Linked DNA regions of Homo sapiens: region 1 is linked to region 2. A link means that fine-mapping ties the variant in region 2 to the expression of a gene that starts in the linked region. Tissue or cell type: adrenal gland. Region 2 holds a variant in brackets; the other region holds the start of a gene. All regions are shown on one strand. Distances are from middle to middle. Region 1 holds the start of KHDRBS2 (KH RNA binding domain containing, signal transduction associated 2). Region 2 overlaps KHDRBS2 (KH RNA binding domain containing, signal transduction associated 2).

Evidence for each region. PIP is the estimated chance that this variant, and not a neighbour inherited with it, causes the effect.
Region 1: KHDRBS2 starts here. The variant in region 2 is fine-mapped to the expression of KHDRBS2 in adrenal gland (GTEx, PIP 0.96).

Annotation. Positions count from the first base shown.
Region 1 is chr6:62,281,504-62,289,859 of GRCh38, reverse strand. It overlaps KHDRBS2 (KH RNA binding domain containing, signal transduction associated 2), which reads left to right and starts at 3,635. Exons shown (of 9, transcript NM_152688.4): 1 at 3,635-4,002. The coding sequence starts at 3,912. RefSeq lists a silencer at 3,686-3,775.
Region 2 is chr6:62,213,320-62,221,675 of GRCh38, reverse strand. The region is part of intron 1 of KHDRBS2 (KH RNA binding domain containing, signal transduction associated 2); the gene reads left to right. Among named protein-coding and RNA genes, the nearest start is that of KHDRBS2, 69 kb to the left of the region's middle. The variant A/G (reference allele first, on the strand shown) is at 3,581.

The DNA of each region.
Region 1 (8,356 bases), 68 kb before region 2:
ATTGTGAGTTGGTTTTACTGAATCCTTTGAGTAACTAGTCAAGAGTTAGTTAATCCTTGGAGTAACTAGTCAAGAGTAGCTAATGTGGTATCCATAAAGTTAATAAGAACTCTGGAAGCAACAGAAACTGTGCTCTACTTGATAATGCAGGCTGGGTATTTTTTTATTAGTTTGCAAGGATTAGTCTGATTAAATGCCCTTTAGCCTGACCTTTCTTACAAGGGTGTGTGAAAATATTGAATATACAGTTTGTGCTTTAACCACAGAACATATTCTATGGTGCATGACTTATTCATCCTTCAAAACCAAATGTGGTTGGGGCAAAATTTTCTATAATATCCCATTTTAAAAATAATGTTAAAGTTACTAGAACTCCATTAAAAATGTTTTGGGGCTAGAAGTCATGTTTAAAATAAGATAAATCTTTACTTAAGTTAGGCAAATCAATTCAGTGGTGATTTAGGTTATTCATATCATTAGAAGAGGTGGGTTAAACAGCAGTTATAATTTATTCAAGGGTAGACACAAAATATTCTATATTCAACAATCATTTTTTAAAGTTTTTCTGTTTACATTTATGTTTATAAAATGTTTGCATTTTCAAGGTTTCTCTGAGAATATTAAAGGATAATGTTGTACCTGTAAAATATTTGCATGTGAAATAAATGGAGAACATGCAGTAACACAGAGCCATCTATTGAAAACACGTGGATCTGATGCTGGATGAGTGTATATGTAGGGCCCTTGGTGTTTGCCTTTATTTAGTCATATTCTGTTTAAAAATAGGCAACATTTTGTGAGATAATTCTGAAGCATATTGATTTTTAAGGGTCAATATACTTATATATCTTTATTTTACAATGTCCATCATGTAGTAAGTACACAAACTTTTCTAAAGATTATGTTAGAGTTTATTTTCTTTTGATTTTTTAAGTTGCATAAATATATTGCTTTGTTAGAATACATTTTAGGCATTTGATGAGGGATTACCTGAAGAACTACAAATAATAAATCTTTAGTTTTGATAATAACTAGAAAATATTAACTTGACTGTATTTATAATGACTTGAAGACATTGTATAATAAAGTCAGCACTTGGACAGCTCGCTGTGGTATCTTCTTATTAATCCTGTAATCATGGAAAAGATGGCTGTGAATAATAAAGTAGTTGTTGTTGCTGGACATTATAAGAGTTACTACACCTTCTTCATTCATGAAACTGGGTTTCTGCACGTCTCCATCCTCACCATATGCTTTTAATGTCTTGATATGCTGCAAAGCAAAATGTTATTGTAATTGTAAAATATTTTGTTCTAATTTACATTTATTCGAAAACATTTACAGTTTTTTGCCTGTGGTTGGCATCGTATTCACCCTTTACTACCATAGCAAATCGTAGCCACCTCTTTTAAGTTTGAAGCATATTTTCCCTTTATATCCCTGTTGCAGACCAGGTGCAGGATGCATGACCCTTCAACTACTAAACATTCTGCACACAGATAAAATAGCAAGAACTTTCTGTATATATACTCAATTCTAAATAATAGCTCCTTTGAAAGTAACATAAGAATCAGAAAGAGATTAAGAAGCACATCCAGAAAGATACCAATACTTTATGGTCCCCTATTACACTTAGAATAAAATCCAAATAATTTTCATTCATCAAATCTTCAGTGTTTGTACACATCAATCCCCCCTCCCTTATTGATTCCATTCTTTCCCATATTACAGTAGTCACATTGACCTCAGTCAATTCCAAAAGACAGCACAGTTCTTTCCACCACAGGGCTTTTTCAGGGGCAAGTTCCCCTGCTTGGAATGTCTTTCTTTGCACATTGTACTCACTTGGTTCATTCTTTTCCATGAGTTTTCACCGTAAATATCAGCTGCTTATCGAGATTGTATGTTTACCCTAGTCAAAAATAAAGAAACTAATGTCTTCCCTTGTATTCTCTTTCTTAACTCCTTGGTTCATTCTTGACCTTTATTGCAGTCAACAATTACCATTCCTCTTGTATACTTGGTTTTATTTATCTTCTCCCATTAGAAAACATCTTTGTGATGACAAGGAATGAATGTGTATGTATCTTATTCACCAATGTTTCTCCAATTTTAAGTACTGTCCCTAGACTCTTTTCAGTATCCAATAAACATTTGTTGAATGCACACATGCACAAATAAATTAAATATATAACACACAGAAAGGTAGGTTGAAGCAGTATATTCTGGATATAAATGGTGCTAATATAGAATTGAATTTTAATCTCAACTTCAGCATTAACTAGACATGAGACGATTTCTCTGTTTTGCCTCAGTTTCCATATTTATACAAACAGAGAAAGTAATACTTGGCTGGCATTTTTCAGAGTGCTTCTGTGAGGACGTATTGAAATAATCAATGTGAGGCACGTTACGTTATTTAAACATTATACAAATAAAAGTTAATCTCCCGAATTTATCTAAAAATTAAAAGGAAAATATTTAAATACAGTAAGATAAGTTGGAAAAATTTCAGCACATTTTATTTGTAGCAAAGTTGGCCCTCATTCTTCCACACCAAAAATAATGGGGGAGAGAAGAATCAGGAAATGACTACTTATGAAACGAGAACCCAAGACTTGGGGAAAGATTGTTTCCTAGCGATTGAGGCATGCAAGTTACATTTTATAGCCGCATTGGTAAAAGAAGGATGGGCTTTGCCTCCACGCTTGGTGATATCATGAGGGTTTAACTTTCCTTTAAATAGAGGTGGGATAATACAAAGTAGCTCAGCAACAGTACCTGGTGAAAGAGACTGGCACATCTAAAACTAGGAGAAAGGGGAAAATTAGAGCAAACGTGGTTACCTATTTTCTAGTCTCTTCTTTCTTCTACATGTCTTCCCAATTCTTTCACAAACTGTGACTAATGAATCATATTGTTTTTGGTTTTTAAATTCAGCCCCTCCCAACCTCCCTTCCACAGATAGGGTCTGGGGAAAGGAGGCACGGATAGGTTACCAGAACTAATTCAATATCCTAATGATTGTACACCTCAATCATGTCTCTGCACAATATTTCTTCGAGCCGCTTTATTTGTTTATCAATGAACATCCTACTGCGTCCCTGAGATGTAGGTCATCGGAAATACCAGCTGCCGATCACATGCAGTCTTCATTGTATTTCCAGACCCAGTGCGCTGCTGATTCCTGCACAACTGGAGTGCGCCTGAGCTGTGTGAGGGAAAGGAGACACCTGTGCCTTAGGGACGCAGGTGAAGTCCCATCTACCTTCCTGAGACTTTCCCTGGCGCTTTTCCACCCTCTCGGGTGGCTCACTTCTCATCTCCATCTCCCCTGTCCACTTGTACTCAGACCTCTCTCTTTAACCTGCGCTTTTCCCGCGCTCTCTCTCCTCTGCGCCTTAGCTGAAGACACAGAGAACTCCACAAAACTGGGCATGCCTAATAGCCAGGGAAGGCTTGGGCGCAAGAAGAAAGCGTTTGCATCTTCCGAGCTCCCTTCCCCTCTGCAGCTGCCTCCTGCCAGTCAGGCCACCCGACTTGCGCTACCGCCCAATGAGAGCCCGCGGCCTTCTGCCAGCGCCCCGCCTCTCCTGGCACCACCACCAATGAGTGGTTGGCGGAGGTGGGCCGCGTCCTGTTCCCGCCTCTCCAGTTAAGGCCGCTGGTGTGAGCCGGGGCTCTGCGCGAGCGAGGGACGACGGAAGGGACGGGCAGGTGTGGGCGCGGGGCCACGCAGCCCGACGGCGGGAGTCGCAGGTGCTGGGTGCATGGGCCAGTGAGGACGCACAGAGATCCCTCGCCGCGCGGAGGAGGAGCAGCGCGGGAGCCAGGCGCTGCCCCAAGACCCTGCCTGCGTCCGAGCGAGCGGAACCTCGCGCTTCGCCCGGGGACAATCCGAAGTCCGCGCTATGGAAGAGGAGAAATATTTGCCTGAGCTGATGGCAGAGAAAGATAGCCTGGATCCATCTTTTGTGCATGCGTCGCGCCTTTTGGCAGAAGGTAGGACTTGCCCCCACAGATGGGCACAAACCGCCGGCTGCCTATCTCACCCGCGGCTTGATTAGGGGAGTGAAGTTGGGGAGGGACTCCTCTCCCCGCCTTCGCAGAAACTGTCCCCCTGAAGATGCTCGCCTTAGAGCTCGGGCGGACAGACCCCGTTCTTGGGGCGGACAGCAGTGCTCCTTCTCCACGTCTTAATTTGGAGAAGACCAAAGCTACGGAGATCTAATGGCAGTGGCGATGTGACCTGTTAGGATCATTGATAGAGAAACCATAAAGTGTATGTAACGCGGTCTACAGGGACATTTTCACTTCGCAGAGGGAAGGGAAAGCAGTTTGGAAGTAAATGGTGATCAATGTAGTGTTCTAAGAGCTTCGTAGCTACAGATCGGTATTTTTATTTTTATTTTTTGCTGCATTTAGGAAGTGATTTTTGATACCCTTTAATCAAAGTCTATCCTATGGAAAGTGTTAGAATTAACCTATGCATTAAACTATGCATGTTCTTATATGTATGTTAATGTGGTAAGTAAAGGCTAAAGTGCTTATACATTTATTTGAAGTGTGATGATTGGGTACTCTGTGAGATATTGGTCCCTGGGAACACTCTATAATTGATCAACTGTTTTACCAAGTGTGCATTTTCTTTTGTGTACCTGTAATGTTAAAGGGGATTTCATTCCTAGAGGAACACATATGTCTTGTTTTTTGCATTGCTTTGAAAGGTTTTTTTTTGAAAAAAGACACATGAACTTTATTAACCGAATTACTCCATTTATGTTATAATAATGCCATCTAAATACTAAAGACACCTATGGTATCTGTAGTTACTTACCCATGCCTTTTTAAAACATCTGCAGATTTTTTTTAGATGAATGCTTCATTAATAATGAATTGCTTCATCATCAAATTGGTTACAATGCAGTTTTGTAGCTAAGTTTGTTATGGACTTACATACAGCAAAAAACTAAAACGGATAACTTCCTCTACCCAAGCTCCTCAGTATTAAAAGATTTTTTTGAGACTTAGTTGTACCAAGGAAGAATAAATTCTGCTCCTCAATATATGATTTAAATAGGCATTAGCTATATTTTTTAATTTATGAATTGTTATTTATATTAACAATGAAGTGTAAGGTATTTTTCTATGTTTAAATACTAAACAATTAGGAAAAGATTTATATTCAAAACATGGAACATGTGAAATAACTAAACTGTTTTCAGGGAAAAAGCTAGTTTTATAGATAAGTGGGAAGGTGAAATACAATTATGCCTACTACTTTCTTGGTTACTGAATGAAAAAAAATATAAATTAAAGTGGAAAAGTAAAGTCAATAAAAACGAACTTTTTTTACTTTCCCAAAAAAGACAACTACATAAAAATAATAGCAAAATAATGTGTTAATAGATGTTTAAGATTGTTTGAAATGATTTAAAAGGCAAGTCTTACCAGTCTTCAGTATCTTTAATATATTTTGAATAGTCTTCAATATATTTTCCAGAATTTTCTTTATGTAGCTTATAATATGTCTTTAAAGTGAAAAAAAAGTTACAAATTGATCATTCTCTCTGACCCGCTAATTGGAGTTCTATTTGAGACAAGTGGCTCAAAGATTAATTCATCAGTCATTAATATGAGTTATTGTACTTGAAGACGGCCAAGCTAAATAAATGCATACAAGAAACTCTTAACAGAGTGCATAAGTATTTCTGTGGCTGGTAAAACAGTCAGAGAATGCACTTGGTTCCTTAACATTTTATCTTTCCTAGGAACTTGATTTCTTGATATAATACTTAGGAACATGTTCTGATGTACCTTGTAATTTGATTTTTTCCCAGCAGGGGGAAGCATGCCCTGCTTTTGTAAAGAATTAGAAGGAAAAGCTCCTAAATAGAGAAAAACATCTAAGTAAGAAACAAAGAGGTTACCCAAATTTCAGAGAAATCAGAATGAGGAAAAGAGAATGGAGGAGGTTATAATAATCTTGGAGTACCTAAAGAGTTATGCAAAAGGGTGCATAGGTTTTATATTAGCTCTCTGTACCTGGGGCTCTTTACATGTGCTAATTAAAGAGTGTAAGATGATTGTTCTTGGAATCTCAATAATCTTAATGTATATTTTATGGTATAGATCTTTCATTATCTTTCCAAAGGCCAGTTGCCAAGATGTCCACGCTTAGTTTCAGATCTCTATAGAAGAGTATGGTTGAGATTATTTTATTTCTCATACCTGAGAATGCACTGATTGAAGGGAGTGGCTGTAAATAAACCTGACATAGATATTCATTTGGAAAGAAGGTGCAAAGTACATTTCAGTCAGTACTGTGCAGACAGTGTCAAGCCTGAGTGAGTAGTAAAAATGATACAGATGATTCAGTTCTTCAGAATGATTTTCCGGAAGCTAATATATATAAAGGCAGTAGTATAAACCAATGAGATTTCACAATGATTTATTTTGCATTTTGATTGGTGATACAGGCAAATCAGTGCTCAATTGACAGTGCTTCATGTAGAATTGAAGGCTGTGGGGTTGAAAGTACTAGTTGGATGTTTATTTGGGGTTTTTGGGGGGTCCATTGTAGTTTGTTTTATTTCACTTGTTTGTGCTGTGTGTTTTCAATGAGAATGATTTCAGTTGATTGTTACTCAGAAGAGTTCTTGAATAATGTAGTTTGAAGTTTGTTTATAATATGCTTAAATAATTAAAATAATGTTCATCCTGCGATTATAATGTTGTTTAGTTATCCACTTGTTATGGTAGGTGCTTTTGAATATGATAAAACAGCAAACTCAGGACTATCCTTAAAGTTCTACTCAGTGTCTGAATTTGGTTGCCAGATGAAATTACATAAGTTTATTTATATCTTTTCTGCTTCTGGGAAGTGCATTAAACTGTGAATCTAGATACCTAGATTTGAATTCCACTTTAACCTCAACTGAATCTGGGTAAGCTTTCTTTCCCTGGGCCCAGTTTCCTTGTCTCTCAAATTAAGGAGTTGGACTAAGTGATGTATATGTTTTTTTGCAATTCTAATTAAGTCTCAGGCTACTGATGATACAACGAAGTGATGTTTGTATATTCGGAACAAAAATTCAATGGCTGCACATTTTTGAAACTTTTTTCATTCTTTCCTAGTTTAATGATTAATAATATATTTATGGCACTAAAATGTAATTTGAGGCATATACTTTATTTTGGGTACTGGGGACAGATTTATGTTCTTAAGTCTATTGAACTACTATTAATGTTTGAGGCCAAAAATGTATATACATGAAAATATTATCTGGAAATATTCTGTGTCTGCTGACAGACATAGATCTGTTCAGATTTATATATTCAGTTATGGTGATTCCATACTCCTAGGAGCATTATAAATTTTTGTCCAATTAAGAGAGGTTTGGGGAAGATTTTCTAGCCTGAAATCTTTGCAAGCACTGAAATAATCATAACCATTTTGGTTGACTCATTATATGACGATGTCAAATATTGCCAAATATTCCAGCAGTTCGAATGGTTTTCAAAAAACTGTAGGCGCTATTTTCAAACTTTAGTAAAAAGTTTGACCTGCCATCTAGACTTGGCCTTTATTTCTGCAGATATAAATGAGATCTTAAAAATATTAAGAAAAGAGGGATTAATACTTACCACACATGCAAACTTGTGAGTTAACTACATTTAGATTATCAATAAGAACCATTTTTTAGTTAGATCGTGTTTCTTAAATATTTTTCATAAAGCTTGATAAGTTTTTTAATTAAGGAAAGTTATTAGTGTCATGTCTAAAACAGCTTCTGGTTAAAAAATAGTGTTCCTGTGACTCTTTAAAGTGACTTTTCTTTTGATTAACGTAATCACCTTTTTCTCCCAATAGACTTGGGATAATCTTATGTTTCTTAAATACAAAACAAACATGGGCAAAAAATTAAATTCAAGTTATCTTTGATCTTCAATTAAGACAATTTATGATATAGTGGAAAATTTCTACTTTGACAAGAAAAACACTTGGGAGTGATTATTGACACTTCTACCTACTGGGAAATAAAGGATGTGTCATTTTTTTTCCACCTCTCTGATACTCAGTTTCTTCATCTATATAACAGGAAAAGTGATACCTACCAGGCAGGGTTCTTTTAAGATGAAAAAACAAAAACAAAAACAAACAAACAAAAAACAACTTCTGCTTGTGATGCTTGTGATAACATAAGCCGTATTTTAAAAATTTATTTTATTTTATTTTTGAGACAGAGCCTTGCGCTGTTGCCCAGGTTAGAGTGAAGTGGTGCGATTTTGGCTCACTGCAACCTCTGCCTCCTGGGTTCAAGCAATTCTCCTGCCTCAGCCTCCCAAGTAGCTG
Region 2 (8,356 bases):
TCTCTTACATATAGCACCATCAGTTTTCACTTCTTGTATGGTGAGCCAATGCGATTGTTTATTAATTTATTTTTACAGTTTTATGTTCTTTTTAAATTTTTTTTTGCATATAAGTTGGTGTTATCAGATACATGTAGATAACAAAATGGTTAATAGAATGAAGCAAATGAACATATCCAGCATCTCACATAGTTAACCATTTTTTCTCCTTCGTGGCAAGAGCAGCTAATATCTACTCAATTAGCAAAAATCTTGAATACAGTATTAGTAACTATAGTCCTAATGTGGTACATTATATTTCTAGGTTTGTTTAGCCTATCTATCTGCTGCTTTATATCCTTTGACATATATCTCCCCATACCCTCTACCTTAATCCTAGTAACCACTGTTTCATTCTCTATCTCTGTATATTCAACCTTTTAATTTTTAGATTCCTTATATAAGTGATATAATACAACTTTTATTTTTATGTCTGGTTTATGTCACATAGCATAATGTCCTCCAGTTTCATTCATGTTGTGGCAAATGGCAAAATCTTTTTTTTTTTGGTATGGCTGGGTAATATTTCATTGTATATATGCATCACAGTTCCTTTATGTGTCAGTGGACACGTATTGCTTTCATATCTTGGGAATTGTGAATAATGTGCAATGAACATGGAAATGCAGATATCTTTACAAGGTGGTGATTTAATTTCTTTGGGGTATATACTCAGAATAGAGATTTCTGGGTCATATGATTAATTTATGTCCTTTATAAACAGTAAATTATTAAGCATTTATTTGTAATCTAACAAATTTTTTCTTTAAATTGGAGCTTTAATTTCATTTCCATTGAAATAGTCACTGACATACTTGCTTTTAAATCTATCATATTCTGTTTTTATTTGTCTTACTTGTTTGATGTTACCATATTTTTTCTTGGATTCCCTTCTGTTGATTATTTCAATATTTTATTTTTATGTGTTATAAATCTCTATGTTCTTATGGTATTCTTTCATTCATTGCCCTAGAAATTACAATATGTAATTTCTAATGTTGAATGATAATAGTCTAATGTTAATTGTTAATTCTACCTTCCTCCTGATCAATATAAGTACCTTAGAACACTCTATTTCCATTTACTGTTATTTACCCTCTTAAGATTATATGCCAATTTTACTGTATATTTTAACTATGTACTTGTGTGTGCATTTGCTATACATACTTGCATACATACATACACTTATGTATATTTGTGTATATGTGTACAATGTATAATTTCCACCAAAATATTGTTACTGTTTTACTAAAGAAAATTGTTATTTAGGTTTCCTCATGTAGCTACTATTTCATTGCTGTGCTTTGTCCTTTCATCTATGCACTCTCATCTGAGATCATTTATTGCTGAAGAAGAAATATGTTACTATTTAAATTGTACAAGTTTGTTGGTGGCAAATTCTCTGGTTTGACTGAATTGGTCTTTAGTTCACCTTCATTTTTGAAAGATTTTCATTTTGTATAGAATTCTAGATTGTACTTTTTTTTGGAATATTTGAGAACATCATTCAATTGCTTCTGGCTTACATTGCTGTTACTGAGAAATTATGTCAGTCCATCTCATGCTCCTCCCTAGAAATTTCTTTTTTCCCTACTTATAGTATGTTCTTTGTCTTTTTTATTTTTAAAAATTTCAAACATACAGAATATATACATATGTACTATATATTCAGATAGTATATACAGTTATATATATACTATTAATATATATATATAATTTCAAGTATAGATCTATATAAAATGATTGTATATACAGTTATATATATAAAACTATGCACATAATTTCAAGTTATATATATACAATTATATATACTATCATATATAGTAACTATATATCATATAGTAAATAAAAATATATATATAAAACTTGAAAATAAATTAAAGATGTGCAACTTCAGCCCTAGATACTTCAGTGTGTGTCTCCTAAGAATAAGGACATTCTCTTATGTAACTATAGTGCATTATTACTCTTAAGAAAAATAAACCTATATTATCTAATATCGATTCCATATTTTAAAATCCCAAATTATTTCAAAAATGTTTTCTATAGTGAATTTTCTTCTAATATGCATCTTTTAGGTTGGTAATGGGTTTTTCAATTTTATTTTACTATTTATCTTTGTATTTATTTTTCGCTATTTCATGTTGATATAATCACACATGAGAATTTGTTTTTGTTTGTCATTTTTAGAATTGATTGTAATATTGAATTTGTGGATTGATGTCTTTAATCAGTTTTGGAAACTCTAAGCTATTATTTATTTATGGTTTTTTCCATTTATTTTCTCTGTTCTGTTCTTCTGGCACTCTGATTCAATTTATGTTAGTTCCTTTCCCTCTGCTTTCTGTATCTCTTATAATCATATATATTTTTCTCTTTTTTGGTCTTTACACTTCCTTCTACAAAATCTCCAAGTTCATTAATTCTCAAGTTAGCTGTGTTTCATCTGCAGTTAAATCTGCCTATTTAGTTTTTTATTTGTATAAATTTAAGGAATACAAGTGCACTTTTGTTACATCCTTATACTGCATAGTGGTGAAGTCTTGGCTGTTAGTGTGTTCATCAACCAAATAATACATATTGAACCTATTAAGTAATTTCTCATTACCCTGCCCACTTCTTCCCCCCTGTGCTTCTGAATCTCTAGTGTCTGTAAATCAACACTGTATGTCCACATACATATTATTTGGCTCCCAATTATACACAGTGTTTAACTTTCTGTTTTGAGTTGTTTCACTTAAGATAATGGCATCCAATTCCATTTATGTTACTGCAAAAGACATGATTTTATTTTCTTATGGCTTAACAGTATTTCATTGTGGATATATACTTCATTTTCTTTATCCAGTTATCTGTTGATGGATACTTAAGTTGATTCTGTCTTTGCTACTGTGAACAGTGTTGTGATAAACATGTGAGTGAAGATACTTATTTTGATAAAATGACTTCCTTCAGATAGATACCCCATGTTGAGATTGCTAGTTTTTACTTTTATTTATTAAATATTTATTTTCTGGAAATTCTGTTTGATTTTATTTTAAATTTATAACATACCTCTTTAAATGTTACCAATTCCTGGCTAAAGTTTTTAGTTTCAAATTTTATCTTTATACATATTTGATATCTGTCTTTTTCTGATAATTTTCACTTCTGTACTCTTTCTGGGCCTTTGCCCATTTTCTTTTGTTTGTGTTGGTTCTGTTCATGTCATGTTATCTTTGCTTGTATACCTGCCATTGTGTGCTGCAGATTGTTATTAAAAATGCTTGAGGAAATAATTATATGTCTAAGATGATAATATCTGATTCTAAAGGGGATATTCTTTTGCTCTTTTAGATACCCAGAACATTGGAGATTTTAAAAATCACTTTAATCGTGTTTTAAGGCTTGGGATTGTTCTCGTCTACTCAGATGACTAGCAGCCTGGCTACCATCCATTGAGGGCTGCTTTCTTTTGGTATATCCTTACTCTTTTTCCATTTGACTACTCTTGACTCCACATTTCATCCCTGTAGCATGAGAGGTAATGAACATGCTGTGC[A/G]GTCCCTTTGTTGTCTCTTCCCGTGTTGGCAAGATGCCCCAAGGGTGAAAGCAAACCCAAATGCCAGACTTATCTCTCCAGAGTCACTCTTCTCTGGGACCTTGGCCGAGTGATTCCTCCTCTTCATTAGTCTTTTGTTGCTTTTAATAAGATTTTTAAGTATTAAATCAATTTGAAGGATTGGTTCAAATTATCCAGTTGGACAGTTTTGAAAACAGAATCTCTGCCCTAGTGTCAATCAATCATTAATTTAAAAACTTCACTTATATAAACTTTCAGGATTCTATATTTTGATGCTTTATGGATTCTATGATACTGTAGTTTTATCTTTGGCTTCTTCAACATAAGTCCTCATAATTATAAAAAACAACTTATGTTTTATTGTTACATATGTAAGACAATTTGACACTTTTATTAGACTCAGACTGTTCTAATCAAGACATCAGTTGATCATTTTTCAAGAAAATGTAGCCTAAATGTCATTTTTGTAAGCCTATCTCCAAGTACTCTACCTAATTATTTTTCAATCTCTGCTGCTTCTTCAGTATTTTGCTAATTTATAAATCACATTTACCATATTGTATTACCAACTATGTGTTTGAAAAGCAACTCTTCAATTATAAAGATTGAGTCTAAGACAGCATTTGGAATTTAGTAAGTCCACAGTAAGTGCTAAATAAATTATATATGTTTACTTCTAAGTCAGAAATCTTGACTGAGAACAATCAATTACATGACGTTGAATATATACTCCTTAAATAAAAAAGTCACAACCCAGTTGTGAAAGGCTTCTATATATGAATTTAGCTTTTTTTTCTGGTCATTTGAATATAGGATTGATTGATTGTTAAAGATCTGGATTAGTGACAGTATGATTTTAGGTTCATGAGAAAGACTCAGCTCTTATTGAAAACGGCGAAGAGACATTGCTCCTTCTGCATTAAGCACATGCATTATTCTCTGAATTGATTTAGTGTTTGAAATAAATAATAATGTAACACAGATGTTGTAGATGAAAATAACATAGTGTCAGGGTTTGTTCTTTGGCACCTTTTTTTTTTTTTTTTTAATCAGATCATCTCTTTCTGAGAAGATATAAAGACTCTCAGGCCAGGAAATTTCTATAGTCTGTTAGTTCACATCTTTCTGATACCAAACCCTATAACCCCTGCTAAATGTGTTGAGTCCCTGATTTTAATAATAGTATTTGGCTTCCCAGAAGCCTAAAAATGAGTAAATATGGTCTAATTTTACGAGGTGCAAACTTCAGTTTTCCTGTATCTCACCGAAGTGATCTAGGCTTTTGGTCATCTAAAGTCTATCCTGGTCTACTTGAAACTGGTACTTCTCTCATTGGGAGAAAAACGTTAAGTGCTTAATAAAACAAAAAAAAAAAAAAGAGGAGAAAGAAATATGTTTAGATTATTTGAAGCAGGTGGATCAAACCTTAGTCATGTGGCTTTCTTTTCTTTACTTCCCAAGACCACCACCATCTCAGTGCATCATTATAAAGACTCCTGTGGAACTTCACTTTCACAGAGACATTTAGAATGAATATATATTAAATACTGATGATGTCTTATTTTGCCCTCTTAGATCCCTAACCTTTAGGTAGCTATTGGTATTATGGCATAGTAAACATTTCTGTGTGTTGCATAAGAACTTTTAGATTCCATGTTTAAAACAAACATATTAGATATGCTCTGCTGAGAGCTTTTAGAGGTCCACGAAAGAAATCATTGTACTATTAGTTTTATGCAAAAGTGTCAATCAACCTATTCTTGATCATATTATTCAAACTTTTGTTGAATGATTCTAAATTGTCATTGAGTATCTTCTGTGGCAATGTAAATTTTTTCATACAGTGATTCTAATCCTTGAAAGCGAGTTTTCTTGGGTTTATTGGGAATTTAAATGTAAAATCTAAAAGGAGTCAAATCAAAATTTTTACAAATCAGGCACAACTCATGTACCTTTTGGCTAAGTAAGGATTAAAATGTTGAATCTAGTTGGGTTAAGATCAATCCAACATGCATGAACATCTTTATAAAGTACAAAATCTTTAAAATTAAAAGCTATATATTATGAGAAATATTTCTTTTTATAGGTGTTATTTCTGAATGTGATACCAACTTCACGGAAATATAGTTTATGACATATAAACAATCATAGAGTATCATATTAATCTTTTCCTGTACTGTATTAATATTTACATTGATTATCTCTCATTTAAGTAAGATCCCAATTTAATGAAGGTAATACCTGTTTGCAACTTTGGCTTCTTCAACATAAGTCCTCATGATTATAAAACCTATGATTCTGAAAATCTATGATTTATTAAAGATTGTATTTCATAATCGGGCTGATCACTGGTATTCTGGAGTTATGAAACCAAAATTATAAAAACATTGTTTATTCCGGTGGGTTGAGAAGATTATGGGAAGATACATAAACAGAATAATTTAAATAACCTAAGGAAGTAATTATTTTCTAATTTAAATATTATATGTATTATTTTTAAAAGGCGTATTTTTTTATTGTGGTTGGGGCTGGCATCTTCACAATGTCTCCTATTTCTTTTCATGTGAAAGATCCTCCAATGACTTAAAGCTCCAGAGTGCTCTCCAGTTTCTCAGTTCCTTCTATCTGCAGGGAGGAGTGGCTTATATGGTTGAGTTGGAGGAAGGAGCTGAGTAATCATAACCAGTCTCTATCTCCTTCCGTCTACAGTAAGCTACTCTCCCATAGGAAAGGTGTATTTTGCTCTGCACCTTCATGCTCTGGATTGTAATGGGCAACACTCTTCATGCAAGTGAGGATATATTGCACTGCATGTGGGTAGGTGAGGGGGGACATATGTCTAATTCTAGAGCTCAGAATTGGAAAACTCTCTTGTGTATATAAGTTATATTTTTTTAGTTTCTTTTACAGTAATAATCTGATATTTTTGTCTTTCTGCTGCTTCACTGTTATTTTTCAACTGGTTCTGACTTCCCATAGAGAAAAGGTATGCTACCTGTTAGACAGACCTCTGTTAGCTTTCTAAGGAAACAATGGAAAATTCAACAAAACTGTTGAGATTTTGGATGGATTTTAAATTTTTTTATCTTATGTCTTGATTTGTATGTATACTTCTGTCCTTAAGTAACTGAATGAATAAAAATGTGAATGTCAAATGAAGAAGAACGTACAGTTGGAATTGTTGATAGAAGAGACAAAAGCTTTCAGCTCTTCAGCTTTGGAAGAAATAAAGGAAAATTGATTATTGTGATATGTTACAGAAAGAAGAAAAGCATATGTGAGACGTACTTAGCATCCAGCTAGTTTCGCTGCTCTGGGTAAAATCTGTATGTGACAGAGACTTGTTGGATGATGCTCATCCAGTTTCCTCTTTTGAGCACAGAGAAAAATCTACCTTCCTAGGTCTCCCTTTCAGATAAATTGCAGTCATGTGAATGAGTTCTGGTCAGAGAGATGTGGGTAAAAATATTGTTTGTCCACTTCCAGTCCTGCTTCTGTTTCTTTTTCAGTGCCCTCAAGTGGCTGTTTTTCTTGATTATGTCTTGGGCTTACTTTTGTTATCTGTGGGAGGATTGGTCTGGTTAGGTCTTAGCCATTAAAAACAGTCAACTTTTAAATGGGTGTATAATTTTTGTAAGTTACTATTTCTAGGAAATTTTATCCTCTGAAATTTCCTATTATTACAGTTTTCTAGGGTCATGATTCTTAGTATTTAAAAAACTAATAATACATTAATTTCATACTTACCTGCATTGTTATAATCATTAATGGCTGTTCTAATTTGATATATAATCCTTTCCTGTATATGGAAGAATGATATAAAATGTCTATACTGTGGTTGAAAAAGTAAAGGGTATATCAGCAGTCACAACATCAATATACTTTGCACAAAGAAATTTTGCCATGGATGGATTTTCAGAAATATAAATCAAATCTCAAGAGTAAACAAGTGAAGCATCAGAAAGATTTGAACATACAGAGAGACCTGCAAGAGATAGAAGATAAAGCTGTTCAATTTGCCATGGATAAAATATTAGTTTGTTAGCTATTTTCTAAATAAATTTTATACTTAAATGGCTAAATATTTTATCATCATGTATTTCTCTTGCTAGAAAATCTATTTGAGAAAACAAACACACATGTATTAGAAGTTGGCTAAGATACTTCATTCTTTTTTTTTTTTTTTTTTTTTTTTTTTTTTGAGATGGAGTCTCGCTCTGTCACCCAGGCTGGAGTGCAGTGGCGTGATCTCGGCTCACTGCAAGCTCCGCCTCCTGGGTTCACGCCATCCTCCTGCCTCAGCCTCCGGAATAGCTGGGACTACGGGTGTCCACCACCATGCCTGGCTAATTTTTTGCATTTTTAGTAGAGACGGGGTTGCACCGTGTTAGCCAGGATGGTCTTGATCTCCTGACCTTGTGATCCGACCGTCTCAGCCTCCCATTCTTTATTTTAATAAGGATACCATGCCCCAGACTTGATTCATCTCTGAAATATGACTACAGTTTGGTTTCTTCTTTCCCCATGATTCTGCTAAGTATTTTCTATCAAGGTTAGCCCTTCCAACATTCTATCCCTGCTGAAAGCCTTTCTTACTTTCACTTTTCCGATTTTCGTTTGATTTTTAAGACTTTTATCTTTTCATTAACCTTCATGATCCCCCCTCTGCTGGATCCCTAAAAGAGGTGGGGATCCACAGACCCCTATTCTCAGAATTTTTTTTTTCATATTCTGCGCTATGCAACTGCAACCTCA